7 linked regions of the Homo sapiens genome follow. The protein of the gene in region 1 interacts with the protein of each later gene in a biochemical or structural test. Each region holds a gene or a part of one and is shown in the gene's direction. Other genes may lie near its edges.

Region 1 (4,464 bases):
CTTAAATCTGTCAACATTACTATCTTTTGTAAATAACAATTAAACTATACCCAAAATTTCACCTGCCTTTGGTTGCCATCTTCTGGATGTTTTACTAATATTCTTAAAGTTTTTGTGTGTCTGGACATTTCTTGTGCCGATGAATGGTCGAATCTGTTTTTATATTTTGGTAGAGTAGCTACCCATACTCATGAGAATAAATTGTGAAATTTCTAGTTTTTTTTTTTAACTTAGAGATACATGGAGAAATGAGAACTTGTTTTGTAAATGTGAGTCCATTTTCAGGTGTTGGCATTTTCTTCATTTGTTAACAGGGGAAAGCCTCCTGAAGCTGATGGTGTGGATAGATCATTTGGCGAGAAACGCTATGAACCCATCCAGGCCACTCCCCCTCCTCCTCCATTGCCCTCGCAGTATGCCCAGCCATCTCAGCCTGTCACCAGCGCGTCTCTCCACATACATTCTAAGGGAGCACATGGTGAAGGTAGGAAGTTCGGAAGTAGACATTTTAACACAGTAATGCTTATGAAGTAAAATTCTGGTGGTTTCTAGGCAAAATGGTTTTTACATTAAAAAATACATGCTTGAAACCTTTGGGCTGGGAACAGTAAAAACTAAGAATTTTGTTAAAAGTATGTCTCCTGTTTTTACAAGACCATTATTTTGGACAAGCCTTTTAGCTAAACAGATTTTAATCTATTTTATGCTAGTCTCTAAATCTTCTGGAAGTAGTGTTTGCCAGTATATGTAAAGATGGTTTGTAAAACCTACTATGTTTTATCTCACACACCCAAATAGAAAAGCCATAATGTTTCATATAAAATGTATCCCATACACCTTGACTTTTGCATTTACATACCAGGTAGATCACATATAGCTCCAGATTATTCATCTTAAGAGCTTTGTAACATTTTACCCTCAGCATATAACACAAAGTGGTTATCTCTTCTGCTGTGGACAGGCATTTTCCTAGCACAGACTTCTCTTATTATTCCCTTAGGAGGCACCTCCTTGGGCTTGTGAGTCTTCAAGCAGATGTGTTATAGTTCTGGATTGAGGCTATCTTTTATTAAGATTTTTTTTCACACATGCCCATGTTTACAGATAAAGACAGTTTTAATTCTTACTTTCCAGTCCTTATGCCTTTTCTCTTTTTTTTTTTCCTCTTTTTGAGACGAAGCCTTGCTCTCGCCCAGGCTACAGTGCAGTGGCGCAGTCTCAGCTCACTGCAACCTCTGCCTCTCGGGTTCAGGTGATTCTCCTGCCTCAGCCTCCTGAGTAGCTGGGACTATAGGCGCACACCACCACGCCCGGCTAATTTTTGTATTTTTTGTAGAGACAGGGTTTCATCATGTTAGCCAGGCTGGTCACGAACTCCTGACCTCAGGTGATCCGCCCACCTCGGCCTCTCAAGAGTGCTGGGATTACAGGCATGAGCCACCGCACCTAGCCTTCTTTCTTTTCTTGCTGATTGCACTGGCCAGGACCTCCAATAAACTCTGAAATGTAAGTGGTGAAATTGGACCTCTTTTGCTAGTTCCTGATTTTAAGGAGGAAGGACCTCATGTTTTATCCTTTAGAATGTTAGCTCTAGGATTTTCGTAGATGTCCTTTATCATGTTTAAGACATTCCCTATATTCAGAGTTTGCTGAAAGCAGTCAGATGTTTTTCCTGCATGTATTAAGATGACCATATGATTTTTCTTCTCGTACTGTGGAAAATTATATTACTATATTCATGAGGTATTTGGATTAATAATTCTCCTGTCTTGTAGTGTCCTTAATTATTTCACAGAGTTCAGTTGGTACTGTGTTACACTGTGGCTGGCAGTGCATAAAAAATCCTGTGGTTCCACTTTTTAACCAATGTTTGGCATCATCAGACTTTTCGGTTTTTCCATTCTAGTGGGTGTGAAATAGTATTTAATGCTTTTTGTTGGTTTTGTTTTACATTTTTCTAATTAATAGTGAGTATCCTTATTATATGATTATTGGGCATTCTAGTTTTCACAAAGACTAGTGCCAATCTTTGGAGGCCAGGAATCTTAGCAGCTGGACCCTGACTCCAGGGCAGCAGGGTATATATATTCATGGCACCACCTGTCCATGCTGCCCTCATCCCTCAGCATCACACCTAGCCTCCAGGGCTCAAGAGTCAGGCTCTGGCTGTGCGACCCACATTTGGGCCTCGACTCCAGCACCAGGACAAGTTAAGCTGGGACAGGGCTATTATAACTTTTTTCAGAAAGTTATTTAAATGCTTACGTTTGTTTTTCAGGTAATTCAGTGTCATTGGATTTTCAGAATTCCTTAGTGTCCAAACCAGACCCACCTCCATCTCAGAATAAGCCAGCAACTTTCAGACCACCAAACCGAGAAGATACTGCTCAGGCAGCTTTCTATCCCCAGAAAAGTTTTCCAGATAAAGCCCCAGTTAATGGAACTGAACAGACTCAGAAAACAGTCACTCCAGCATACAATCGATTCACACCAAAACCATATACAAGTTCTGCCCGACCATTTGAACGCAAGTTTGAAAGTCCTAAATTCAATCACAATCTTCTGCCAAGTGAAACTGCACATAAACCTGACTTGTCTTCAAAAACTCCCACTTCTCCAAAAACTCTTGTGAAATCGCACAGTTTGGCACAGCCTCCTGAGTTTGACAGTGGAGTTGAAACTTTCTCTATCCATGCAGAGAAGCCTAAATATCAAATAAATAATATCAGCACAGTGCCTAAAGCTATTCCTGTGAGGTAAGACTTATGCCTTTGCTCAAAGCATTGGCCCTGTGATTTTTCTCATGTGAGTTTGTTGTAGTTTATTTGACTTGGGACTTTAAAGTGATCTTTTTAACTCAACCTTTAAACTGAAGAGTGTTGTTGCAATGAATGCTGTTACATAGAAGGTCCTCCAGGAGGTACAAGATGTTGGTAAAATAATAAAGCTAACAGTCGTGTATGGTTGGTAGGTATTGTCATCATCCCTGTTTTACTAAGAACTGAGGTTGAGTGACAGTAAGCAGTTTGCCCAGGGTCACAGCTAGAGTGAGGTGAGCCTCAATTTAGCTGCTGGTCATCCGACCTCTGAGCCCATGCTTTTTTTTTTTTTTTTTTTTGAGACAAGAGTCTCCCTCTGTCGCCCAGGCTGGAGTGCAGTGGTGCGATCTTGGTTCACTGCAACCTCCACCCCCTGGGTTCAGGCAATTCTCCTGCCTCAGCCTCCTAAGTAGCTGGGACTACAGGTGTGTGCCACCACGCCTGGCTAAATTTTTTGTATTTTTAGTAGAGGTTTTCACCATGTTGGCCAGACTGGTTTTGAACTTCTGATCTCAAGTGATCCATCCGCCTCCACCTCCCAAAGTGTTAGGATTACAGGCGTGAGCCACTGCACCCAGCCAGGAGCCCATACTCTTAACCAGCCATGACCTTTTGTAACCTCCTGACCTACTGGTAAGGTGCATGTGGAGGACATCTAAAAACATTAAGTATCTATGTTCCTCATTCATTATTTGTTCCACAATGATGCTAAGAAGAAAAATAGAATAACCTCTGACTGTTTAAAGAGCAGCAGTTAGTGAGATGGCTGAGCAAATGAGACAAAGTGAGCCCACCTGGAGCCTCCCTGCAGCTCCTCTTTCCTGTCTTTCATTCCACGGCGATTGACCAGATGGATTCTGGCCATACATAAAAGCTCATCTCAGCCTCCTACAGCCAGTTCCATTTTCACGCCACCATAAAGCAGAAGCACTTGCAGGCAGGGAGAACCAAAGGTCAGGATGGCCACCTGAGTCTGCTTTCCAAGAGAAAGGATGGTTATGGCGGTCACTGCCTTCCTAGCTCTGCACATCCACAGATGGTCAGGGGCGGACAGAGCTGGCCTCTGCTCTGCAGCTCAGGCTGCGCTCTGCTCCCTTGATGTTGTGTCGTAGGATGTCGTCCCTGGCACTCCGGTCATGCTGGAGTGAAACGGCAGCTACCTTCATGTAATTCTGTTTCGTTGGTCTTTCTGCTCACCTTTGAGCCCTGGCTCAAAACTGTACTTTCAGGAAGTTGATAGCCTCTACTTTTGAAGCAGTCATTGATACCACATCCCCTTTGCCTTTGGCGTTCTGTGATTACTAAGTTAATCTACTGTCTCTCTTTCGTGGATGTTTGGGATATGCCCATACAAGGGTCTTCGCCTCATGGAACCTTGGAAGCCTTGCCTCCTACAGCCAGAGCGGGCGCTTGGTCCTCAGGGAATGCTGAGGCAGGACCATACTCAGGCACACTTAAAATCCTAGGGAGATTTTATCAAGTCTGAGATGCTGTCAGCCGTGAGATGCACCATTGTTTTGTGTCACTAAAAATGGAAGAACAGCCAGGCACGGTGGCTCATGCCTCTAATCCCAGCACTTTCGGAGGTTGAGGCGGGCGGATCACTGGAAGTCAGGAGTTCCATCCTGGCCAACACGGTGAAAAC
Region 2 (3,500 bases), on another chromosome or scaffold:
GAAGGAAGCAATGGTTCAGAAAGAAAAAGCAGCTCCTGAGATTACTAGGAAGCTGGAGAGACAGAAGAGACCCAAGGAAGGAAAAGAAGCAACTGGCGGCCCTTGCCCTGGTGTCAGAAGACAGCAGCTGTAGAGGGCTGTGAGGAAGGAGGGTGCTGCTGAGAGAGCTCACACACCATTCACACCCATTCACACCCATTCACACCCTTCCCTGGGCAAGTGTGTCCTGCCCTTGGCTGTCTCCCAGGAGTCCTCATCCTGGAGTAGTGAAATGGTTGAAAACCCCCAAAAGAAGCAAAAGCCAAAGCCCCAGGGGTCTCCTCAGGAGAATAAAATGGGAGACTCGTCTCTCCAAACCCAAGAAGAAGAAATCTTTCCCAAGGAGGAGCAGGCTAGTGGTGATCCTGGGGAGACAGCTGGCAGCATGTCTTCCCAAGGTGGAGGCTGGGTGCGGTGGCTCACTCCTGTAATCCCAGCGCTTTGGGAGGCTGAGGTGGTGGATTGCTTGAGGTCAGGAGTTAGAGACCAGCCTGGGCAACATGGCGAGACCCCCATCTTTACCAAAAATACAAAAAATTAGCCGAGTGTGGTGGTGGGTGCCTGTGGTCCCAGCTTCTCGGGAGGCTGAGGTGGGAGAATTGCTTGAGCCGGGGTTGGGGTTCGGGTTCACTGGAACTTGAGGTGGCAATGAGCTGAGACTGCGTCACTGCACTCCAGCCTGGGTGACAGAGTGACACCTTGTCTAAAAAAAAAAAAAAAAAGATGAGGACGTAATCATCCAAGGAGGAAACAGTTAGTGACCCTGAGGGAGAGGCAATAGGAGCATTGCCAAGAAAAAGAGGAGATTCTCTTCCAAGGAGAAACCATCAGCAATGGGCCTGGAGAGGCCACTGGTAGCAAGATCAGCTCCAAGAAGAAGAAAAAGACCCACAAACAGGCCAGGCGTGATGGCTCATGCCTGTAATCCCAGAACTTTGGGAGGCCAAGGAGGGTGGATCACGAGGTCAGGAGTTTGAGACCAGCCTGGCCAACATAGTGAAACCCCGTCTCTACTAAAAATACAAAAATTAGCCAGGCGTGGTGGCATGCGCCTGTAGTCCCAGCTACTCAGGAGGCTGAGGCAGGAGAATTGCTGCAACCTGGGAGGTGGAGGTTGCAGTGAGCTGAGATCACACCACTGCACTACAGCTTGGGTGACAGAGTGAGACTTTGTCTCAAAAAAAAAAAAAAAGAAAGAGTCCCACAAACCATCCCAGGAAGATCAGAATGAACATTTCCTGGGGGAGAAGCATGCCCCCAAGGTGGCATTTTCCAACCCTACACCCCAGTAAAAACAAATTCATGAGCACACACACAGAAAATAAATAGCATAATAGAAGCTCAGGAAGTGTGTTAAGAAGAAATAGAAGCCGGGCACAGTGGCTCACGCCTCTAATCCCATCACTTTGCAAGACCGACAAGGCGAAACCCCATCTCTGCCAAAAATACGAAAATTAGCCAGGCATGGTGGCATGCACATGTAATAGGCTACTTGGGAGGCAGAGGCAGGAGAATCAGGAGAATCACTTGAACCTGGGAAGTGGAGGTTGCAGTGAGCTGAAATTGAGCCACTGCACTCCAGCCCAGGTGACAGAGCGATACTCTGTCTCCAGAGGAAAAAAAAAAAGCAATAGAGGAAGGGACAGGGAGCAGTGCAGGAGGCCTTCTGCTTCTGAGAGTATGGTCAGGGAAGGCCTCTCTGAGGGATGTTACTAAGCTGAGGCCTGGGAAGGTGCTTGCCAGGGAGCAGGGCAAAGGCCTTGGGGCAGGGAGGAAGTGGGTGTGTCTAGGAGTCCCCAAATGTGCATCATAGCAGTTGAGGGGGAGGCAGGGCCAAATCACTTGGGTCTCAGGTCAAGTTGAGGAGCTTAGATTTCATCCATGAACATGGGATACCATTAGCAGATCCTAAGCAGGGGAGACACCTGGGTGGGCACTATGGCTGTGTCAGAGAGAGGTTGGGGCCAGAGTGAGAACAGAGGTGAGAACCAGGTGGCTGTTTGGACGAGAGCTGGCAGTGATAGCAAAGATGGAGAGAAGTGGGTGAATAAAAACATATTTTGTCATTGATGGGTTGAGGACCATTAGGCAGAAAGGTATTTGCCAACATGGAAAGGTGTTCATGATATATTGCTGTGTGGATAAAATAGATTGCAAACAAATGCATATATTATTCGTCTGTTAAAAAATGCACTGAGCAGGCTGGGCATGGTGGCTCATGCCTGTAATCCCAGCACTTTGGGAGGCTGAGGCTGGTGGATCACCTGAGGTCAGGAGTTCGAGACCAGCCTAGCCAACATGGTGAAACTCCGTCTCTACTAAAAAAAAAAAAAAAAAAAAAAAATAGCCAGACGTGGTGGTGGACAACTGAACTGTAATCCCAGCTACTTGGGAGGCTGAGGCAGGAGAATCGCTTGAACCTGGGAGTTGGAGGTTGCAGTGAGCCAAGATCATGCCATTGCACTCCAACCTGGGCAACAACAGTGAAACTCCATCTCAAAAAAAAAAAAGAAGCACTGAGAGGCTGGGTGTGGTGGCTTATGCCTGTAATCCCAACACTCTGGGAGGCTGGGGTGGGAGGATCACTTGAGGCCAGGAGTTTAAGACCAAGCTGGGCAACACAGTGAGACCCCTACTCTATAAATTTTTTATTTATTTCTGTTTTATTTTTATTTTTGAGACGGAGTATCACTCTGTCACCCAGGCTGGAGTGCAGTGGTGTGATCTCGGCTCACTGCAACCTCCACTTCCCAGGTTCAAGTGGTCTCATGCCTCAGCCTCCCCAGTAACAGATTACAGGCAAGCCACCACGCTTGGCTAATTTTTGCATTTTTAGTAGAGGCGGGGTTTCGCCATGTTGGCCAGGCTGGTCTTGAACTCCTGGCCTCAAGCGATCTGCCTCAGCTTCCCAAAGTGCTGGGGTTACAGGCATGAGCCACCACGCCCGGCCTACAAAATTTTTTTAAAAAATTAGCTGATGGTGGCCGGGCGTGGTGTCTCACGCCTGTAATCCCAGCACTTTGGGAGGCCAAGGCGGGTGGATCACGAGGTCAGGAGATCGAAACCATCCTGGCTAACACAGTGAAACCCCGTCTCTACTAAAAATACAAAAAAATTAGCTGAGCGTGGTGGCGGATGCTTGTAGTCCCAGCTACTTGGGAGGCTGAGGCAGGAGAATGGTGTGAACCTGGGAGGCAGAGCTTGCAGTGAGCCGAGATGGCGCCACTGCACTCCAGCCTGGGCGACAGAGCGAGACTCCGTCTCAAAAAAAAAAAAAATTTTTTTTTGCTGATGGTGGCATGCCCATAGTCCCAGCTATTTGGGAGGCTGAGGCAGGAGGATCACTTGAGCCTGGGAGTTCGAGGCTGGAATGAGCCATGATTATGCCATTGCACTCCAGCCTGGGGGACAGAGTGAGACCCTGTCTCAAAAACAAAACAAAACAAAAAAGCATTGAGAAC
Region 3 (5,064 bases), on another chromosome or scaffold:
TGCTGAAGATACAAAGCCCAAGCCATTATAGGATTCATAGTTTAGTAGAAAAAAGAGATATCACATAAATAGATGCAACCTCTACCTCCTGGACTCAAGCAATCTTCCCACCCCAGCCTTCAGAGTAGCTGGGATTACAGGTGCTAGTAAAACTGTTGAGGACGCCATTTCAACCTTTAGAATTGTACATAACATAAACTTTTGCTAGATAGATAGATAGATAGATAGATAGATAGATAGATAGATAGATAGATAGATAGAATAATGTTGGCATGTTCTTAGTGAAAAAACTGAGTTGTCACTCAGCAACAATTATTTCTTTGTTAGTAAGTTATGTATGAATTTTAATTGGGCTCATGACCACCTAGAATAGAAGCTACACTTCCCAACCTTTCTTGAGTTATGTACGGCTATATGGCTAAGTTCTGCCCAATGGGATGTAAACAGAAGTATGAACAAAATATCAGACATGTTCTGAAAAGAAGACAGTGTTCCCTTCTCATTTTTTTTTCTTTTTCCTGCTGGTTGAAATATATGCATGCTGACTGGAGCTGGGGCAGCCAATTAGGCCCAAGGGGTCTGCATTTTAGGGATAGTGGAGCAAAAAGTTAGAGGGTAACTGAGCCCTTGATAATTATGTCAGTCATGCAAACCCTCAATTACTTACTTCTAGACTAAGCTTACCTGTGAGAGAAACATCTTCCATCTTTTTACAGTTCTGTTTTGGGGGGGTTTCTGTCACTCCCATTTGACTTTTATCTTAACTAATAGAAAAATATAAAGAAAATGAAGCAGAGTAAGGGACTAGAGAGTGGCACAGTGTGATATTTTAGACAAGGTGATAAGGGAAGGATTTTATGAGGGATTGTTATCTGAGCAGAGTCCTGAATGCATGACTGTGCCATGTGAGTAGAGGGAAAGTATGGAAGGGGGAAATAGTAAAAGGAATACAGTATCTATTTTCATTTTGGAAACCAAAATTAACATAATGATTATCTGTTGAGGACACCATTTCAACCAGGGAAAGGGGGAAATAGTAAAAGGAAAGGGGGAAACAGTAAAAGGAAAAGCCCAGAGATGAGAGCACGTTTTTGTGTCCAGGGACCATCAAGGAGGCCAAACCTTTTGACAGGCAAACCTTTCAAATCTTGTCAGGCCTGCAAATGAAAATCCTTGACCCTAGACATTGTAAAGACTGGTCAACTTTGCAGGGACTGGTCTCTGTAGGCCCTTCAAAAAGCATGACCCAGTTATGAGTCTCAGCTTTTACCCAGCTTCATGGCTTATCCTCTAATGGTTCATTTCAAAATGCTTCCTGAGTTCACTATTCAAATACTACATACTTTTCTCAACCTAGCATGAGTTCTCACTACAGCTTAAGAACTGGCTCTATTGATCCACCCCACATTACTTCCTTTCTTCTTGAGTCTACATAGATATTACTGCCTATATTGTTCATTTTAATTATGAAAAATCTATCATTCTGTTCTGATTCATGCATGTGTCTCTTGCCACCTCAATTAACATGTAACATAAGAGCTAGATGTTTAAAAGTGTTTAAAATCCCTTTTGGCTACTATCTGTTCAACAGAAAGTGCTCACTAAAAACTTTCTGCATGTCCAATGAACGTTTCATTTAACCATCTCACAAACTAGAAACACAATGGAGAGAGCCTAATCTTTCCCTGTTCCTCCCTTTCGCCAGGAAGATATGAGTAGCTAAAGTATTTGGTGCTATATATAGCCAGTTGATGTCAGCTGAATGCCAGTCTCTTCAGAAAAGCTCAGTCCCCAGTTTGAGTCAGAGTAGGGACCATGCTGTCCCAGGTTCAAGGATAAAAACCATCAGGCCCAAGTGCCATCCATAGTCCATCTCCAGAGTCTTCCTCCACAAACTGGGATTCATCCCCGCTGAAAAAGCACAATCTAACAGCAAGGTGAGTATGTTGTTTCCTAAAATGTTTCATTAGTCAGTTGTCCAAGGATATTCAGAGTTGTGACTCATAAATGGGCATTCTCTGCTTTAAAGGGCAGCTGTTGCCAATATTAAAATGCTACCACCAAAGAATTCTGGTTTAGTCTAGTGTCTTCTTCATTCTTACAGTTTGCTGGAATTGATGGAGTGTGATGCTGGTACAAATGAAGGCCAGTGAGGAGACAATGACAGACTAAAATACTGTGGAGAAAAGAGAGGGAGGGGAAAGGAGACCAGCAATTTCATTGTTTCTCACTGCCTGATGATCATTGTATTAATGTCCAGACTGGGTCTCTGTTCACTGTGACATTGCCTGTCAATGAATAACATACTCTGTCACCAGATAAGGAATGCGTATTGAAGTCTTTCAGTAGCAAGCGATAATAACTTTTTAATAAAGAACAAAGATGTTGTCTTTCAAAACAGTGATTATAAGACACTCCAAATGAGTTCTTCACATTGCCTCAATAATGTCCCTTTGTTTTTAACAGGGAACAAAAAAACCATGCTATCACATAATACTATGATGAAGCAGAGAAAACAGCAAGCAACAGCCATCATGAAGGAAGTCCATGGAAATGGTATCAATAAAAATCCTTCGTAGCATTAATATAGCACAGCATGAATGTGGCTCCATCCTGACGTTGTTTAATATTCCATAGTTTACTTCCTTTAGATTCTTGCTGTTCTGTCATAACAAACCTGGAGCTCTAGGGGGTGTAGAAAAGCCTATGGTAACTAATCCTTTTGTAGTCATCCTTTCTCATTTGGAAGCTATTTTCAGAGGAACAACTGCTGTAAAAGGCATGAAGCAATCTGACAGCTGATGTACATTCTGCTTGGCTTGCCTTCCACATTATAAGTTAAGATCACTCTCGATTCTTTTTTTTTTCTGGACAAGTCTCATACAATCTTGTCTTTATTGTCCATCCCACATGGTTTAGCTTGATTTCTTTTACCTTACATTATATAAATCACTCAAAATAAGTTCTATCATCTTTTTTATCAAGCTATTAAGTTGGAATTCATATTTATTGCTTATTATTTAACTCCATTTCTATTGCTTATTTATTTAACCCTTCATATTTGTTAATTGATTTACTAACATATTTTGTGTGCAAAGTCTACTTTTATTTGTAACTTCTGAGAAAATATAAAGTTATTGTAGTCTCAAAGCATATGACTCAAAAAAATTTTAATATATATTACGTGCAAGGTAATATTTCACTCTCTCCTTTTCTTTAAATTCTAGCAACTAACTTGAGAAAGCAATGCTTTATAACTTGCATTTTGATTCTTATAAAGGAAATTCAACTTTGTTTATAAGCAACGTATAGCATCAGTTTTAAATGTTAAGAAAAATATTCAGGTCCTCTTAGGAGCTGATTTGAGCCATTCCAGATATATTAGTGGCATTTTCAGAATGCCTCCTTATTTCCCCTGTATTGACAAGGAATGCAGCCTTTCACCACTACAATATTGAGACCTAGAAGCTTGAGACCCGGGAAGAGTATTGAGCATAATGTTTTCATATTACACCTTCCATAAAGCAAGAGGAACAGAATCAAAGACTTTTAGATGCTCCCCACGCAATGTAATCATAACTAAGAGGTCCGTTGTTGTTTTCTATTTTCTGCAATACAGAACCACTGTACTGGATTCAACTTGGTTCTCATGTTTTACTGTAATGTCAAATTAGCTTGGAATAAAATGAGAATAATTCTGAGTCAGATACCAGAACTGAATTCATACCAATCCAAAGTTCCAAAATTCATGCCTTATTTAAAATTTCATGCATCTTTGTGTTTCCAGATTCAAGTAGTTTACTTGAAATTATTTTTTAGCTTTTCTGATCAATGTGGCAAAAATCAGATGATCACTGGAGTTTGTGACAAAATTGTTTACCTTAAAATAGACCTTTCATGTTATTATTTTCTAATGACATCCTAATCATAAAACAGTCAGTCCATTTAATGTATTCTAGCCTAAATCATGTGTTGGAATCTACTGTTAGCTCTGACATAGATCTATAAGGGTAAGAAGTTTTTTTTCCTTTTTTTTATAAACATAACTATTGTTTTTATAAAAAATATGTGGGAGAAAACACACAATTATATATCAAAGTGGGGGAAACCCTCAAAACCACTATCTCACCACCAGTAAATCCTAGCCACGTAAAGTCAGCTGAAGCCCTCCCTCCCATGTCACTGGATGAGTACCAGCTCCCTTAAGAGGAGTCACATGCTCTGTCTTTGTTGGAATGTCAAGTATTTCAGATAACATGGGGATAATCAGACTCTTTCCAAGCTCATCCCAGATGAAATAACTTCAGTACTTTATGAAACCGCTCAAATATTTTTCTTCTCTTATTTCCTCTGACATTTTATATGGAACTTTACTATTTGTGTATAGCATGATGTTTAGAGATCTGGAGCTAGGGGAGTATAATTTTTTCTCAGGATGCATAATAAAATGGACTTCAGAGAAACTTTTTTGGGAATGATCCTCCAAACTTTCAAACATTTTACAGGAGTAAAAATCTGGATAATTTAAGATAAAACATGCAACTGCTTTGATCTTAATTGTAAGACTAAATAAATCAAATTTTGCCTGGATTGTCCTTTATAAAGATAAATTGAAAAGGATGTTCCAGTCGAAATCCCCTTCTCCTGCCTTCTCTCCTTTCCCCTTGTGCATCAGAATTTTTTTTCAGCCTCATAACTCATTTAATTTTTATTACTACTTACCAAAACATTTAGCTTGGAGGAGTATAAAATGTGACAATGAGTTGGCTAAATCACTTGTTGTCCTCTTAACATGAGGTGGAAATTCAATCCCATTCTTGTAGGGGAAAGAGATTGCAGCCGGTGAGTCTTTGAGATAAATCACTAGAAAAATATAAGAACCAGAAATGGGGAGTTTTACATCAGAGCCCTCATTCCATCAGGAGTGATAACCTCAAAGAATTATTAAAAAATTCTCTTCATATAGATTATAATGCTAACTGCATAGAATGAGTGAGAGGTGGATAACTCCCAGCCTCCACTAATCACAACCCCAAATTGTTGCTCATTTTGAATCCATTGTGA
Region 4 (3,867 bases), on another chromosome or scaffold:
ATATATTTAAACCTGTTTTTTCTTTCTTTTCCTAGGATTTCAAGCACACAAAATCCTTTATAATTTAAAGACTCCACTTTAGAGATACACCAAAGCCACCGTTGTTACACAAGTTATTAAACTATTATAAAACTCTGCTTTGTCCGACATTTGCAAAGAGGTACACGAGGAAATGGAATTGGTATTTCATTTTAATTTTCATGACTACTAACTCACCTGAACTTGCTATTTTAAACAAATAGTTCTGTCGACACCTAAAATATAATCTGGCTTCTTGTGTCTGGACTAAGTTAAAAGAATTAAAATACTTTGTAATGTCCTGGGCTTTGGGAAATGTTAACCACGTCCTAACTTCTAGAGAACGTTACTAAAATATAACATACTGATTGTGAAGTCAATCCACAGGTCATGAAAATATAAATCAGACTCTGCACGAGAGTCTGATTTAGGGGGTCCAACAAATACTCTGACAGATGCAAAAGGAACCTCTGGTCTCATTTCTGCCAGAATCCTCTTTTCTCCCCTAATATCATCCTTATTCTGATGCTCGTTCATCACTAACACACCCACAGAAAGGAGGAAGCGGGATGGGTCTTATGCCCAAGGATTTGCACTTTGTGTTTACTTCCATTCCTGGGAACTAAAAGCAACATCAAAAGAAATGCCTAATGGCTGGAGCCCACAGGTGTGCACCACAGGATTTGCCTGGTGTGTGTCACTGATTTCTTCATTAAACGTAATTTAGATGGTCAAACACAAACCCAAGTGGCTTATTTCACCCCTACTGCTGCTTGCCACTGCTTCCTTCTTGTAAGATTTCTTTGAAGAGGATCAGTGACTTTGACATCAGAACTCACCACTGGAGCCTACACAAGTTTGCAGATACCTTTCCCTGCAGGAGTGGTGACTTCACATCTTTCTGTCTCTAAAAATTGTGCAGTGACATTCCGGGCCAAGTCCCTTAGTCAGGGGTTGACAATTCTGCTTTTGGACAAGGAGGGATGTGGAGGGAAGAAGTAATAGTCTACCAGGAAAATGAGACGAAAAAGCTCAGTATGACTCCCTGCATCTGGTACCCCTCTTGAAACACAGTGGGCACATGAGCAATGGCTCAAACGAAAAGTGGATCTAATGTGGGTTTCTCAACCGATGAACCACAAAAGCTTCCAGCTACTATTACAATGTGAAAATTCCAATGATCCGTTTACCAGAGCAATTAGACTATGTTAAAAATTCATATCATTTGTAACTTCTTTTAATTACTGAATTGATATTAAAAACAAAATATGGCTAGGGCATGTCCTATTCTTCTGGGCAAATGTGGATGAAAAGGTCACTTGCTACCTTTGACAACTATGAACATGATGGTTAATCTTCTTTCTTTTTTTTTTTTTTTTTTTGAGACGGAGTCTCACTCTGTCGCCCAGGCTGGAGTACAGTGGCACAATCTTGGCTCACTGCAACCTCCGCCTCCCCTCCGCCTCCCAGATTCAAGCACTTCTCCTGCCTCAGCCTCCCAAGTAGCTGAGATTATAGGCGTGTACCACCACACCTGGCTAATTTTTGTATTTTAGTAGAGAAGGGTTTCACCATGTTGGCCAGGCTGGTCTCAAACCTCTGACCTCAAATGATCCACCCCCATCAGCCTCCCAAAGTGCTGGGATTATAGGCATGAGCCACTGCACTGGGCAGGTTAATCTTCTTTCAAAAGAGTCTGCTCTTTCTACCCAATTGGCGAAGCAAATCCCCAGGATTCACCGAACAAATGGATTAAGCACCCACTGAGTGCCTAGCATGTGCCTGGACACCAGGCCACCGGGAAGATGCTCCCCCTTTGACTTGTCTATGACATGCTATGTCTCTCACCAGATCCCTTCCTGGAGGTCGGGCTTCTGTAACATGGCTCTGCCCCCAAAATAAAATTTTCACCACGAGTCAGGGATCGGCAAACATTTTCTGTAAAGAGCCAGAAAGTAGATATTTTAAGTCATAAGGTCCCTGTTAACAACTACTTGACTCTGCCATTGTAGCACAAAGGCAGCCACAGACAAAACAAGCAAGTAGTCATGTCTGTGTTCCAATAAGACTTTATTTACAAAAACAGCAGGCACAGACAAGATTTGGCCCACAGGCATAGATTCCCAACTCATGGTGGTGAAGTACAGAAAAAAACACCTGTCTACAAGCTTTTGTAAGAAATCAGGCTAAATGTTACCTATGTTTTGGTTGGAAGATTTCTTTGGTTTGAGGAATGCTTTCCTCTTGCATTGGCATGCCAAGAGGATAGATGACTCTGAAAGACGCCTCTTCAGACATACCTGTCATCACACAAGATCAACTTCTTCAGTTTAAATGACACAAATCCATATTGTGGAAGGAAAATATGTAGTGCCTTAGCTTCACTAATAGTTGTAAAACTTCTTTTTAAGACATCAAAGGCTAGAGGATTCATTTTATGCAGTGCGAACATCTAATAACACTCTCTGTGTCAAATATATATTGTACATTACCTTAAACTATTGTAATAGCTAGGTAAAAATCCTTGTATAAAAGAATGTTTTCCCCCACACAAAGGGCAGAGTATTGAGCACTAATTTCCTATTAAAAGTATATATATGTATCTGTGGGTCACTGGTGTCCAGACTTGTATTTGCATTTGTGTTTACTTGAGGAACTTGAACACTAACAACTGGTAAAATCCCATTGTAATTCTTACAGCATTTTGACTTTATTTTCCTGCAGTGAATTGTGTTGTGTAAAGATTAGGGCTTTAAAATCTTATTAGCAAGCTTTGTTTTGTTTTAATTATTGTTGCTGTTGTAACTAGATTTAATTTATTTTTAGTTGGAGGTTTGACCTAAGTCTGGACCAATTGATTGCTTTTCAATACAACTTTGCAAAGAACTTCCTTTTTCCACAGGTGGCTTTGTTCGATTAAAGTCTACACTAATAAAAATAGCTGAACTTGTTAAACTTTTTAGCCCCATATAACAGTGCAGGGAAAGAGTCATCCACCTATTGTTATTCATAAAACCCAGGAAACTACACCCTCTTACCTTCTGTAGCTACAAGGCTAGCTGCTGGTTAGCTGCTTAAGATTAGAATGTCATCATCTCTGGATGGCTGCCAACTTCTCAAATGCTGAGAAAAATGCTCTGAAAATAAAAAGCAACAACTATTTATTGAACACTTTATATATGTCAGAGGTGGGGATGGATGGGGGTGAGGATGTAGAAAATCTCATTCATCTCAGCGATACTATAAAGTGGGTAATGTCATCATTTTGCAGATGAGGAAACAAGAGTTACTGACTTGTCAAGTTCATGGAGCTGAGGAGTGAGGAATCAGGGTCTGTGGGGACCCAGATCAGTCTGATCCAGGATGTTTCACACACCATGTTTTTCTCTACCCCCAGGCTGACTTCCTTTTAAATTCTTTGCTGTTATTGTTGAGATGGGGTTTTGCTCTGTCACCCAGGCTGGAGTTCAGTGCCGCGATCACGGCTTACTGCAGCTTTGACTTTCCAGGCTCAAGTGATTCCCCCAGCTCAGCCTCCCAAATAGGTGACACCACAGGTGTGTGCCATGCCCAGTTAATTATTTATTATATTTTTGTAGAAGGGGGGTCTTGCCACGTCGCCAGGCTGGTCTCAAACTCCTTGACTCAAGCGCTCCTCCCTCTTCGGCCTCCGAAACTGCTGGCATTACTATAGGCCTAAGCCCGGTCCTTTTATTTATCTATTTATTTTTAAATTTTATGTATTTATTTATTTTTTGAGACGGAGTCTCGCTCTGTCGTCAGGCTGGAGTGCAGTGGCGCGATCTCAGCTCATTGCAACCTCAAGGGTTCAAGCAATTCTCCTGCCTC
Region 5 (4,464 bases), on another chromosome or scaffold:
CTCTTCAGTCCAGAATTTCATGCCCTTCACAATTCTAGTCTCCTTATGTCCCTGCCCATTAAAACCCCTTGTCCAGGCCCAGCAAACCTCTGGCCATTCCCCTAAAATGCCAAATTCTTTCAGGCCTCTGAGCCTTTGCTTCAGCTGATTCTCCCACCTGGAATGACCTTCCATCTCTTGTGTGCCTTCAGATGCCAACCCATGCTTTAAAACTGAGATCAGGCCAGGCGTGGTGGCCCACACCTGTTATCCCAGCACTTTGGGAGGCTGAGGCGGGTGGATCACCTAAGGTCAGGAGTTTGAGACAAGCCTGACCAACATGGAGAAACCCCGTCTCTACTAAAAATACAAAATTAGCCAGGCATGATGGCGTATGCCTGTAATCCCAGCTACTCGGGAGGCTGAGGCAGGAGAATCGCTTGAACTCTGGAAGCGGAGGTTGTGGTGAGCCGAGATCACACCACTGCACTCCAGCCTGGGCAACAAGAGCGAAACTCTGTCTCAAAACAAAACAAAACAAAACAAAAACAAAAACAAACAAAAAAACTGAGATCAAATGTTTCTTCCTTCCAAGGCATCTTATAGCATTATTTCACTTCCTATCTTGTCTCTCTTCCATGGGACTGGGAGATACATATGGGCACACAGCCTGGCACAGAGCAGGTGGTCAGAATCCACCTGCTACATGAATGAATCATTCTGGCTGCAGGGATCCTTATGTGTGGGGTAAGCAGGAGTCCAGAAAATGGAAGATACAGGGAGACAAATTTCTGCTTATCAGAAGAAATACAATCCAGACCTGGAGCTGCTCAGAAGCTGAGGTCCCTGTCCTGGGGAGCGTGTGAGCAGTGAGTGTAGATGCAGCAGGCTGAGGTCCCTGTCCTGGGCAGCGTGTGAGCAGTGGGTATAGATACACCAGGCTGGAAATGACTGAAGGAATTCCAGCATGGCACAGGAGAGTTGGACAGAGGGGGCTTTGCATTTCCAGAGTCAGCTTCTGAGGGAACAGCCCCCTTACCCATCCTGGCTGCCAATCCTGTCATGTGTTATGTTGATGGTGTGTTTATGCCATAGACTGATGCCAGGATGACCCAGGGATGGGGAGGAGGGTCCTAAATGGGATGTTCCTGGCCTCATTTTGCAGAGAGAGTCCCAGAATATTCACTCTGAAAGGATCTCCAGAGTCATCAAACTCATCCCTTTCATTGGCAGATGGAGAAACTGAGGCTTTGAGAGGGCCACACAGCTGGTAAGACCAGTATACTCATTTGAGGAAATTTGGTATCAGCTGGCCCCACATCCAGGGAGAACTGTGACTTCCTCCCTTGGGCTGTGAATAGAGTGAGTCCCCTGGTTCCCAAACAACATCCTGGAAATGCCAGCGCTTCACCCTGGGAATAGACCCCAAATCTCTGGCTCCCCAGTTTCAGATCCAGGCAGCGGGGTCAGAGAATCTGTGTAAGGGTTCCCCCTCCACACACACACACACACACACACACACATACACATACACACACACACCACCCCCAGTTTCCTGGGAAAGCCACTTTTGGAAGAGTCCTCTGGTTTGCAGCAAAGAGTGTGCCTGCCCCGTGAATCAGAGAGTTTGGGGAGCCGGCGGGAGTAGGGGGCGCTGGGAAGGTGGCAGGGTCTGTAGCTGCAGGAGTAGAGCTTCTGGGCAAGGAACCAGGGCAGAAGGGAAATCAGACCCAGAGATCTGTGTGGAGAGTTCCCCTCTCACCCTACATGGGCACTGTACTTCATAGTGTGCAAAGTTTCTTTTCATTCATTTAATCCTCACCGCCACTTTGGGAGGGATTAACTAGGGCTCAGAGAGGGTCTTGCTCAAGATCACACAGTAAATTAGAAGCAAAGTGGGATTGATCTCAGGACTTCAGAGTCCCTTCTATACCCCCTATAGGGTTACTAGAGTTCCATTCAGTTCAACAAGCCTGCAGTCGTGTTTCATTCATTCAGCCCATATAGATTAAGCACACTTTCATTCATTCAGCCCATATAGATTAAGCACCTACTGTGTGCTAAGAACTGAGGATGCAGCACTTAGCAAGCCAGCCTAGTCATTCTCCAGGTACTCACAGCATGGGGGAGATGTGCACATAACCAGGCAGTTACAACCCACTGTGACAAGTGCTAGCTAGATTAGACGGAAGCCTGGGAGAGGCCCTTACCCTAGGTGGAAGGTGGTCAGCGGAAGCTTTATGGACAAAATTGTGTTCAAAAGCTGAGCCTTGGAAGAAAAGCAAGAGTCATCCCGGGTTGGGGCCGGGATGGGGTTAGGGGATAGGGCAGGGTGTTTTAGGGAGAGGAAACAATAGGTACAATTCCTCAGCAAGGAGGGAGAACATTGTGAGCTCTGGCTCTGTGACCTGTGCAGAGTGGCCAAGAAGAGCCGGAGTTTGTTGGGAGAAGTGGCATGAGAGGAAGCAGCAGTTTCAGATGCCAAGGAAAAGTGTCTGTGAGCACCTTCCTTGCACCCTGGGGTGAGAGCTGGGCACTGAGCTGTGAGGATCTCACCTCATCTGGGCACTGAGAAGGGAACAGGCCAGGGAGCTGCTGGTGGCAACAGAACCGGGGCTGGCACCAGGCAGTAGGGACTGTTCCTGGAAGGAACCTATGTGAGCAAAACTTTTTATGGTTTACAGTCAGAGGCAGTGTTGTCTAATGGTTAGAGTGCCGGCCCTGAGGCCAGAATGGCTGGGTTTGTGTCCTGGTTCTACTGCTTCCTAGCTGTGTGACCTTGGATAAATGACATATCTCTCTGGGTCTCAGTTTGCTCACCTACAAAATGGGAATTGGGCCGTGTGCGGTGGCTCATGCTTGTATTCCTAGCACCCTGGGAGGCCAAAGCAGGATGATCACTTGAGATGAGGCCAGGAGTTCAAGACCAGCCTGGGCAACATAGCCAGAAAAAAATTTAAAAATTAGCCTGGTGTAGTGGTACATGCCTGCAGTCCCAGCTACTTAGGAGGCTGAGTCGGGAAGATTCCTTGAGCCCAGGAGTTTGAAGTTGCTGTGAGCTAAGATCGCACCACTGCACTCCAGCCTGGGTGACAGAATGAGACCCCATCTCTAAAATAAAACAAAGTAAGGGTCGGGTAACAGGGCTATTGTAAGCTCAGCGCACTCCAAGGTGTCAGTAACCCTCCAAAGAAAGCACGCCCCAACCGTTATAGGAATAAGGGCGATACCGCTGTTGTATTAAAGGCTTTATTTACTTAGTGCCAGTCCTCTCTCTAAGCTAATGAGTCCATTCAGTGCTCCTCAACAGCAGCCTCATAAGGTGATCCTTTCGAAATGCCCATTTCACAGCTGAGGAAACAGGCTCAGCGTAGGGAGTGACTTGCCCCCTGCGCCTGTGGGCGGCTCGGGGCTGGTGCGACAGAGCGAGAGGAACCAGCGCGCGGGAGCCTGAGCACCGCGTCCTTCCCGCAGGTACCTGCGCGCCCTGTACCTGGGGCTGCAGAGCCGCTGGCGCGGGGAGCGGCTGCGGCGCCACTTCTACTGGCAGATGCTGTTCGAGAGCGCCGACGTGAGCATGCTGCGCTTGCTGGAGACCTTCCTGCGCAGCGCGCCGCAGCTAGTGCTGCAGCTCAGCCTGCTGGTGCACCGCGGTGGCGCGCCCGACCTGCTGCCGGGTGAGCCCGCCCCTTCACCCTCTGCGCCTGGGACCACCCCACCGGGCCTTTCTCCCTGCTTCAGGCTCCCTGGGGATGCCCTGTGGGCTTCCCCACCCCAGCTCAGGGCTCACTCAGTCAGGGTTTAGGGAGGCCTGCCCCTTCTACCCTCACCACCCTCCAGGCCTCTCGAGACCCCCGCGTCCCCTTCGATGGCCCACTTATACTCAGAGTGAGGAGGGACCTGGCCCCTCCACTCCCTCGACACCCATCAGCCCCCCTGGGCGCTCCTGCCCTCCTCCCTTCCCCGTTGCCAGAGCCAACCAAACCCCATCTCCCACCCAAACACCTTAGACCCTCTGGGGAATCCCCTGCCCACTTCCTTCCCCAACCTGATCCCAGCCTGCATCTCCTGGGGACCCCCTGCCTCATAGACCTGGCCAATCACCATCAGTTTCCAGAGAGCCTACCCCTTCACTGGGGGGCCCCGGGGGGCCCTCCCAGGCCTAGTCCTGGCACCCATCCCCTCCTCCTCCCTACAGGCCCTGTTAATTTCCCACCTTGCCCCTTCCATAATGACAGAGCCCCTCAATATCAGAGAAAAACCGCATCCCCCTGTCTCCCTGAAGCACTCCGTGCTCTCCCAACCTAGTCCCTGCCCAACCCATCCTCAGTGTCCCAAAAGACTATCACCACCCCTCATGGCCCTGGGGACCCCTTGCCCAGTTACGGGGTCCCAATCACAACGCTTCCCACCTTGGGTCTCCCCATCCCCGCCCCTCAGCTCTGCTCAGCTCAGCTCTAGATATTCCTCTCCATGCCCGGCCTC
Region 6 (4,464 bases), on another chromosome or scaffold:
GTCTTGAAGCTCAGAAGGGTCTATCCTGGAAATTCAGATTTGGGAGGGTCAGTGGATGGGTAGTAGATTAAGTTATGGGGGCAAGATGAGTTTGCTCAGGGACAGAGTGTTAATTGAGAAAAGGATGGACTTCTGAGGAATACTCACATTTAAGAGATGAGTAGGGAAAGAGAAATCTTGAAGAAGGCTAAAATGGAATAGCCAGATTGTGGTGGGTTGAAAAATTAGTGGGTTAGTTCGGGCACGGTGGCTCATGCCTGTAATCCTAGCACTTTGGGAGGCTGAGGCAGGTGGATCACTTGAGCTTAGGAGTTCAAGACCAGTGTGGGCAACATGGCAAAACCTGGTCTCTACAAAAAATACACACACACACACACAACTAGCCAGGTGTGGTGATGCGCTCCTGTAGTCCCAGCTACTTGTGGGGCTGAGGCAGGAGGATCACACACACACACACACACACACACACACACACACACACAACTAGCCAGGTGTGGTGATGCGCTCCTGTAGTCCCAGCTACTTGTGGGGCTGAGGCAGGAGGATCACACACACACACACACACACACACACACACACACACACAAACTAGCCAGGTGTGGTGATGCGCTCCTGTAGTCCCAGCTACTTGTGGGGCTGAGGCAGGAGGATCACTTGAGCCCAGGAGGTCGAGGCTGCAATGAGCCGAGATCATGCCACTGCACTCCAGCCTGGGTGCCAAAGTGAGAACCTGTCTCAAAAAGAAAGAAAGAAAAATTAGTGGATCAGAGGGTCTTGTAGAGAATGGGGAGGTGTGCCCTTGACCCTTAGTGTCCTGAATCTTGGCAACACCGAGGGCTCCTTGAACACGGCAAAATCTTATATGGCTCTGAGATTCCAAAGCATTGACTCAGATACCTGCCTCATGCAAAGCCCTATATTCTAGAGCAGTTTCCCTTTCCTCTGTGGCAGACTCTTGTCCCCCCTAACAGATGGCCCAGGGAATTTCAGGGCCCCCTCTCAGTCCTGGAACCCTTGTTCCAGAGTGCTCCCTCATCATCCAAGAGGCTGATGATGGGAGCATCTATTAGGAGACTGGACAGGAAATGTCTGGGCATGTTATACATGCAGGAGGCCTTAGACTAGGCTGCAGAGGGGGATTTGGGCATGGCTGGGAGGATCTGAACTCTCAGAGTATGGACAGAAGGCTTTGCTGCCCACCCCCATCTACCCTGGAGTAGATTTTCACCATGGGCAGAATGATCCAGGGCTAGGCCACTACTCTCTAGGCCCCTGGAGATTCAAGAGGCCTCTAACAAACTGGAGTCCAAGACTACATTCTAGGATCTGTTCCTCCTGATGTAGTCTGCAGTTTGGCCTCAGTCTGCAATTGAGGGGCCCTATGGCACTGTTGCTTGGCAATGTATTAAACAGCAGGCCTTGGAGACTAGCACTTGAGTTAACACAGCCACCACAACCACCACTGCCATCATCACCTTCCCGGAAAGCAGCCACCTGTCTGGCTCCTGGCTTTGTCCAGCTGCCAACCTAAGGCATGTGCCTACGCAGGAGGCGATGACATTTTGGCTCCACGTTCAAAGTTGTTTTTTTTTTCCTTTCTCATGTGTTATTTCTAAAGATAACAAAGGTCAAAAGGCATCCAGCGTTTTCTGGTTTCTCATAAGCTTCTGGTCAATATTTAATCTGGTTTATGGATTTTTTTTAGGTCTTCTAGATGCCTTCTTGAGGCTGCTTGTGGCCACCCACAGACACTTGTAAGGAGGAGAGAAGTCAGCCTGGCAGAGAGACTCTGAAATGAGGGATTAGAGGTGTTCAAGGAGCAAGAGCTTCAGCCTGAAGACAAGGGAGCAGTCCCTGAAGACGCTTCTACTGAGAGGTCTGCCATGGCCTCTCTTGGCCTCCAACTTGTGGGCTACATCCTAGGCCTTCTGGGGCTTTTGGGCACACTGGTTGCCATGCTGCTCCCCAGCTGGAAAACAAGTTCTTATGTCGGTGCCAGCATTGTGACAGCAGTTGGCTTCTCCAAGGGCCTCTGGATGGAATGTGCCACACACAGCACAGGCATCACCCAGTGTGACATCTATAGCACCCTTCTGGGCCTGCCCGCTGACATCCAGGCTGCCCAGGCCATGATGGTGACATCCAGTGCAATCTCCTCCCTGGCCTGCATTATCTCTGTGGTGGGCATGAGATGCACAGTCTTCTGCCAGGAATCCCGAGCCAAAGACAGAGTGGCGGTAGCAGGTGGAGTCTTTTTCATCCTTGGAGGCCTCCTGGGATTCATTCCTGTTGCCTGGAATCTTCATGGGATCCTACGGGACTTCTACTCACCACTGGTGCCTGACAGCATGAAATTTGAGATTGGAGAGGCTCTTTACTTGGGCATTATTTCTTCCCTGTTCTCCCTGATAGCTGGAATCATCCTCTGCTTTTCCTGCTCATCCCAGAGAAATCGCTCCAACTACTACGATGCCTACCAAGCCCAACCTCTTGCCACAAGGAGCTCTCCAAGGCCTGGTCAACCTCCCAAAGTCAAGAGTGAGTTCAATTCCTACAGCCTGACAGGGTATGTGTGAAGAACCAGGGGCCAGAGCTGGGGGGTGGCTGGGTCTGTGAAAAACAGTGGACAGCACCCCGAGGGCCACAGGTGAGGGACACTACCACTGGATCGTGTCAGAAGGTGCTGCTGAGGATAGACTGACTTTGGCCATTGGATTGAGCAAAGGCAGAAATGGGGGCTAGTGTAACAGCATGCAGGTTGAATTGCCAAGGATGCTCGCCATGCCAGCCTTTCTGTTTTCCTCACCTTGCTGCTCCCCTGCCCTAAGTCCCCAACCCTCAACTTGAAACCCCATTCCCTTAAGCCAGGACTCAGAGGATCCCTTTGCCCTCTGGTTTACCTGGGACTCCATCCCCAAACCCACTAATCACATCCCACTGACTGACCCTCTGTGATCAAAGACCCTCTCTCTGGCTGAGGTTGGCTCTTAGCTCATTGCTGGGGATGGGAAGGAGAAGCAGTGGCTTTTGTGGGCATTGCTCTAACCTACTTCTCAAGCTTCCCTCCAAAGAAACTGATTGGCCCTGGAACCTCCATCCCACTCTTGTTATGACTCCACAGTGTCCAGACTAATTTGTGCATGAACTGAAATAAAACCATCCTACGGTATCCAGGGAACAGAAAGCAGGATGCAGGATGGGAGGACAGGAAGGCAGCCTGGGACATTTAAAAAAATAAAAATGAAAAAAAAACCCAGAACCCATTTCTCAGGGCACTTTCCAGAATTCTCTCATATTTGTGGGCTGGGATCAAGCCTGCAGCTTGAGGAAAGCACAAGGAAAGGAAAGAAGATCTGGTGGAAAGCTCAGGTGGCAGCGGACTCTGACTCCACTGAGGAACTGCCTCAGAAGCTGCGATCACAACTTTGGCTGAAGCCCCTGCCTCACTCTAGGGCACCTGACCTGGCCTCTTGCCTAAACCACAAGGCTAAGGGCTATAGACAATGGTTTCCTTAGGAACAGTAAACCAGTTTTTCTAGGGATGGCCCTTGGCTGGGGGATGACAGTGTGGGAGCTGTGGGGTACTGAGGAAGACACCATTCCTTGACGGTGTCTAAGAAGCCAGGTGGATGTGTGTGGTGGCTCCAGTGGGTGTTTCTACTCTGCCAGTGAGAGGCAGCCCCCTAGAAACTCTTCAGGCGTAATGGAAAATCAGCTCAAATGAGATCAGGCCCCCCCAGGGTCCACCCACAGAGCACTACAGAGCCTCTGAAAGACCATAGCACCAAGCGAGCCCCTTCAGATTCCCCCACTGTCCATCGGAAGATGCTCCAGAGTGGCTAGAGGGCATCTAAGGGCTCCAGCATGGCATATCCATGCCCACGGTGCTGTGTCCATGATCTGAGTGATAGCTGCACTGCTGCCTGGGATTGCAGCTGAGGTGGGAGTGGAGAATGGTTCCCAGGAAGACAGTTCCACCTCTAAGGTCCGAAAATGTTCCCTTTACCCTGGAGTGGGAGTGAGGGGTCATACACCAAAGGTATTTTCCCTCACCAGTCTAGGCATGACTGGCTTCTGAAAAATTCCAGCACACCTCCTCGAACCTCATTGTCAGCAGAGAGGGCCCATCTGTTGTCTGTAACATGCCTTTCACATGTCCACCTTCTTGCCATGTTCCAGCTGCTCTCCCAACCTGGAAGGCCGTCTCCCCTTAGCCAAGTCCTCCTCAGGCTTGGAGAACTTCCTCAGCGTCACCTCCTTCATTGAGCCTTCTCTGATCACTCCATCCCTCTCCTACCCCTCCCTCCCCCAACCCTCAATGTATAAATTGCTTCTTGATGCTTAGCATTCACAATTTTTGATTGATCGTTATTTGTGTGTGTGTGTCCGATCTCACAAGTATATTGTAAACCCTTCGGTGGGTGGGGGCCATATCCTAGACCTCTCTGTATCCCCCAGACTATC
Region 7 (4,464 bases), on another chromosome or scaffold:
AGAATATTTTCAGAAGCTGGGCCCCCTGCTTCCTGGCATTACTCTCCTGTGCCTGCTCGTTTCTAATCTGAGCACGTTCCACTGTTATTCAATATGTATTTCCTGTCTAAAGTGTACCATTCCCATATCCCATAGCACAGTGTCAGCATGTGGAAGCTGCTTCTAGCACATACTTCCTCCCTTTCTGTGTCTCCCAGACCCTGTTCCTCCAGCTGCCACTCCCACAACCCTGTTCATTTCCCTCTTCTTCATCATATGGCTCTTCCAGCTCTGTGCCTCCCCTCCAGTGAGAGTGTTCAAACAGTAAGGAGATACATTTCAGTTTCAGTAAAGAGGGAGTGTTCTAATGCTAAGAACTTATCTGAGTCTTATGGTTAATTTAGACATTCTGTTCCCAGGCTAGTGAAGCCCCAAGCAAAACTATTATTGCTTCCTTTAGAAGTCTACGCTTCCAGCTGGGCGCGGTGGCTCATGCCTGTAATCCCAGCACTTTGGGAGGCTGAGGCGGGCGGATCACTTGAGGTCAGAAGTTCGAGACCAGCCTGGCCAACATGGCGAAACCCTGTCTCTACTAAAAATACAAAAATTAGCTGGGCATCGTGGTGCATGTCTGTAATACTAGCTATTTGGGAGGCCAAGGCAGGAGAATTGCTTGAACCTAGAAGGCAGAGTTGCACTGAGCCAAGATCGTGCCACTGTACTCCAGCCTTGGTGACAGAGTGAGACTCCATCTCAAAAAAAAAAAAGTCTACGCTTCCAAAGTTCATCCTGGTTCATTTTGAATCAGGCAACGAAGCTGTTCCAGTAGCTTCCATTGTGATGGGAGGAGGGTTAGAAATAAGAAATGAAGGAGTCTAAGCAGCACTATCTAACTCCTGGTCAACAGCACCACCCTGGGAAAGTCATTTGGCTTCTGTGAGGCTCAGTGTCCTCATCTGTCAAGTGGAAATAGTGGTAATGCCCATCCTGCCAAATTCCCCTGGTGTTATGAGATTTAAGTCAAAGTGTTTATGGGAAAGTACTTTGGAGAATAATATAAGTTCTTGCCATGTTTAGAGGTTTTCTAGTCTATAATTTTTTTTAGAAGAGTGCCTATGATGAAGGATGGATGAAGTGAGCTTAAATGCTGGGCTTTCAAAACCAATGTAAGGCCTTTCTGAAATCCTGCTTTGTAAAGCATACACTTATCTAACAAGAAAGAAACAGGGTGATAGGTGGCTGGAAAAGAAGGAAGAAAGGAAGAAAAGAAAGGTTATCTCAAGAAAAAATGGATGTGACCTCGTTTCATCTCCCATCTCAGGTGAAAGGAAGGTTTGGGTAGAAAAGGTACCTAGACTAGGCTCTTTCAGGAAAATGGTAACATACTTCATTCCAGAAATGTTTCTCACGGGCAGTGCTATGCATGCGTTTAGAATCCAAGGGCCCTGTGTTTAAACCCAAGATTTATCACCCTAATAACAGTGTAAATTCAAATAGGATACTTAACCTCTCTGTTCATCCTTCCTCTTGTACAAAAAAATACAGGAAATAATTGATAACCGCTAGGTCAATCGGTTATTGCAAAGAGTAAGTGAGATAACGTCTGAGAACATACATGCAAGCACCTAGCAGAGTGTTGGCCCCAGGCTCCTTCCTGCGGCTTCCCTGCTCCCCCAGCTTCCACCCTCCCCCTGCCCTTTATAGAATGCAAAGTAGCAGGAGGGAAAGAAGGCATCTCTCCCCCTTTGACTGGTGTGAAAAACGTGCTGTGGAGTCAGCTCAGCAATAGGTTACTGAATATAGAATAACTCCGTCCCAGATAAATGCTGTGCTGAGCGGCCCTGGCAAGAGCCGTAATTCAGAAGCTGACAGCACTTGGAAACTGCCCTGCGGCAGAAACCCATTGTAAACAAGCTGTCAAGCTTAAGGAGAATATGCTGTGAAAATGTCTTAGATAAACAAACACGGTGTCAGTCCAAGCCTGGCTCCTCAGAGGAGCCGTTCCTGGAAGGGCCTCCCTGGTACTGTGAAGAAGGACAAGCGCTCACGCTGCACGCCTCAGAGTGCCTTGGAGTTTCTCGCAGGCACACGTGGCCATGCAGGTCCAGCCTTGACACACCCTCATGGAGTCCCACCTTCTGGAACCTGCTGTGTTCCAGAAGCACACCTGGGCCCCAGGAGGCCAGGGCCTTGGTCAGCTCCACCCTAAGAGCTCAGGGAGAGGTGTCCTAGAAACATCACTGTCCATGTCACAAGTGATTTGAAACCCGTAGACAGACACAAAGAGAGCTGGCTGAGAACTGAGTCCACATTAAACATGAAGAAATTGTCGGTAATGGACTTGGTATCAGCCCCAGTTTGGAGTTTGGAGGAGAATTGAGGCACCATGTACAGGAAGTCTTTCCACTCACTGCATCACTGATGCAACCAGTGTCCAGCACAGAAGGGAATGAATGAGCGACCCGGTTCCTCAAAGTGTGACTCCCAGTCCCAAGGTTTGATTGTTTAAATTCTTCTTATAAAGGGGGAACTGCCAATGGAACGCTGTCCCAACAAGGCTCACTGTGGGGCTGCTTTAGACACATCCCCCACACGGCCTACAAGCATCCTGAGGGTATTCAGCGGTATTTCCCCATGACCAATTCACTCCTATACTCCTTTTCCCCAGTGCAGTCAGAGATAGATAGGTGAGCTGGGCACATTGCTGAGGAGGCCGTTTGCCAAGGCCTAGTCCCATCGATATCCCTAAGTCACACCACTTCCAGAGAGAAAGGGCAAAATCAAAATATGTAATCAGATATCCCAAAGCCTTCTGTGACTTTTTTTTTTTTTTTTTTGAGAGGGAGTTTCGCTCTTGTTGCCCAGGCTGCAGTGCAGTGGTGTGAGCCGAGATCACCGCAACCTCCGCCTCCCAGGTTCAAGCGATTCTCCTGCTTCAGCCTCCCAAGTAGCTGGGATTACAGGCATGTGCCACCACGCCCAGCTAATTTTGTATTTTTAGTAGAGACGGGGTTTCTCCATGTTGGTCAGGCAGTCTCAAACTCCCAACCTCAGGTGATCTGCCTGCCTCGGCCTCCCAAAGTGCTGGGATTACAGGCATGAGCCACTGCACCAGGCCGCCTGCTGTGACTTTATAGCACACCTTTGCCCCAGCCGCAGTCACCTCCCTAATGGGAAGAGTGGATGCTAACATTTTCTAACCCTTCTCATAATATTCATGCGATCACAACTCTTTGTACAGCAGACTTGCCCATGATAGGAGGTTAGTTAGATGAATAAACTAGAAACTTCAGGAAGCGCATCCCATAAGGAGCAGTATTTTTATAATAGTGGCCCTATACTCTCTTCCTCCTCTCTCCTAAACTCAAAAATTTAAGAAATATCTAAGTGAAATTCCTAACATTATTGTTGGAGCATCTTTTTATGTTTTCTTTTTCCTCGCTGCCTTATTCTTCTTCTAAATTAGACCTCCTTTCTTTCCAATTATATTGCATTGCAGGGATGCAGTGTCTTGGAGCATCTAGAGAAGTAGCATTAACCCAGGGCAATGCAAACCTGTGGTCTCCTTGGCGTTGTGCTCAACTTGCCTTTATTTTCCCTGACAAAGAAGCATCTTCTTATGTTGCTTTCTTCTTATTAATTGAATTTGCCTGCAGACTGTAGTGATTAACCACAATTAAAATAGATTAATGTATAATAAGATCTCATCTGTTTGTCTACACAAGTGGGCTGAATTTTTTAATTTCCTGGCCATGGAACCAGGAGACCTGCTAAGTCGCTGACTCCCTGTGTTCCTTGAAGCAGTGCGTCTCAGGCTTGAATGCACATGCGGATCACCTGGGGGTCTTGTTAAAATGCACTCTCTCATTCCTTAGGTCTGGGTGGGGCCCAAAATTCTGATATTCTAACAAGCTCCCAGGTGATGCAGCCTGCTGCTGGTCCAGGACCACGCCGAGAGCAGAGCCTTAAAGGAAATAGCCCAATCTGTCTCTGTCTCTCTTTTTTTTTTTTTTTCTTTTTCTGTTACCCTGTATCTAAAGGGTGTCACAAAATTCTTTCTTATATTTAAGACACACAAAATACCAGCCCAAGAACACTAAAATGTATGCTCTGTGCCCTGTGCTAGGTGTTTTATATGCATTACATCAAATATCATTATTCACATCTTACAAACAAGGAAACTGAAGCTTGTTGACAGCAAATAACCTCCCCAAGTCACGTAACCACTAAGTAGAGGATGCAGATTGCAGGCCCGTGTGCCTGGCTCCGGAGCCTGCGGCCTGCACTCATAACTACTTCTCCAATTACTAATGCCAGTGTGCACAGCTCTCAGCATCATGGAAAAGGGGACTCTTGATTTGAAATCCAGCTTTCCCGTAATGTTCCCAGATTCCAGACTTCTTATATTGCCAAAGTTCCTTATTAGTATAATAATTGTCTGCATTCCACCTCTTTCCCGCTGTTGGCCCTGAACAGCTGGCTTCC

The links.
Region 2: the proteins of TJP1 (region 1) and KIF17 interact in a test that uses a peptide from one of them, tested with the Homo sapiens proteins (one large-scale study listed by IntAct).
Region 3: the proteins of TJP1 (region 1) and MYOZ2 interact in a test that uses a peptide from one of them, tested with the Homo sapiens proteins (one large-scale study listed by IntAct).
Region 4: the proteins of TJP1 (region 1) and JAM2 form a complex in vitro, tested with the Homo sapiens proteins (2 studies listed by BioGRID and IntAct, with this or other methods).
Region 5: the proteins of TJP1 (region 1) and XKR7 interact in a test that uses a peptide from one of them, tested with the Homo sapiens proteins (one large-scale study listed by IntAct).
Region 6: the proteins of TJP1 (region 1) and CLDN2 form a complex in vitro, tested with the Homo sapiens proteins (2 studies listed by BioGRID and IntAct, with this or other methods).
Region 7: the proteins of TJP1 (region 1) and MARCHF3 interact in a test that uses a peptide from one of them, tested with the Homo sapiens proteins (one large-scale study listed by IntAct).

Annotation. Positions count from the first base shown.
Region 1 is NC_000015.10:29,706,851-29,711,314, reverse strand, and holds part of TJP1 (tight junction protein 1), read left to right. Parts: intron 1-314; coding exon 315-484; intron 485-2,278; coding exon 2,279-2,756; intron 2,757-4,464. UniProt on the Homo sapiens protein: TJP1, TJP2, and TJP3 are closely related scaffolding proteins that link tight junction (TJ) transmembrane proteins such as claudins, junctional adhesion molecules, and occludin to the actin cytoskeleton.
Region 2 is NC_000001.11:20,690,508-20,694,007, reverse strand, and holds part of KIF17 (kinesin-like protein KIF17), read left to right. Parts: intron 1-3,500. UniProt on the Homo sapiens protein: Dendrite-specific motor protein which, in association with the Apba1-containing complex (LIN-10-LIN-2-LIN-7 complex), transports vesicles containing N-methyl-D-aspartate (NMDA) receptor subunit NR2B along microtubules.
Region 3 is NC_000004.12:119,134,046-119,139,109, forward strand, and holds the start of MYOZ2 (myozenin-2), read left to right. Parts: upstream 1-1,786; 5' UTR 1,787-1,937; intron 1,938-2,466; 5' UTR 2,467-2,480; coding exon 2,481-2,556; intron 2,557-5,064.
Region 4 is NC_000021.9:25,714,605-25,718,471, forward strand, and holds the end of JAM2 (junctional adhesion molecule B isoform 1 precursor), read left to right. Parts: intron 1-35; coding exon 36-68; 3' UTR 69-2,958; downstream 2,959-3,867. UniProt on the Homo sapiens protein: Junctional adhesion protein that mediates heterotypic cell-cell interactions with its cognate receptor JAM3 to regulate different cellular processes. Plays a role in homing and mobilization of hematopoietic stem and progenitor cells within the bone marrow.
Region 5 is NC_000020.11:31,991,615-31,996,078, forward strand, and holds part of XKR7 (XK-related protein 7), read left to right. Parts: intron 1-3,453; coding exon 3,454-3,656; intron 3,657-4,464.
Region 6 is NC_000023.11:106,926,346-106,930,809, forward strand, and holds part of CLDN2 (claudin-2), read left to right. Parts: intron 1-1,705; 5' UTR 1,706-1,883; coding exon 1,884-2,576; 3' UTR 2,577-4,464. UniProt on the Homo sapiens protein: Forms paracellular channels: polymerizes in tight junction strands with cation- and water-selective channels through the strands, conveying epithelial permeability in a process known as paracellular tight junction permeability.
Region 7 is NC_000005.10:126,872,939-126,877,402, reverse strand, and holds part of MARCHF3 (E3 ubiquitin-protein ligase MARCHF3), read left to right. Parts: intron 1-4,464. UniProt on the Homo sapiens protein: E3 ubiquitin-protein ligase which may be involved in endosomal trafficking. E3 ubiquitin ligases accept ubiquitin from an E2 ubiquitin-conjugating enzyme in the form of a thioester and then directly transfer the ubiquitin to targeted substrates.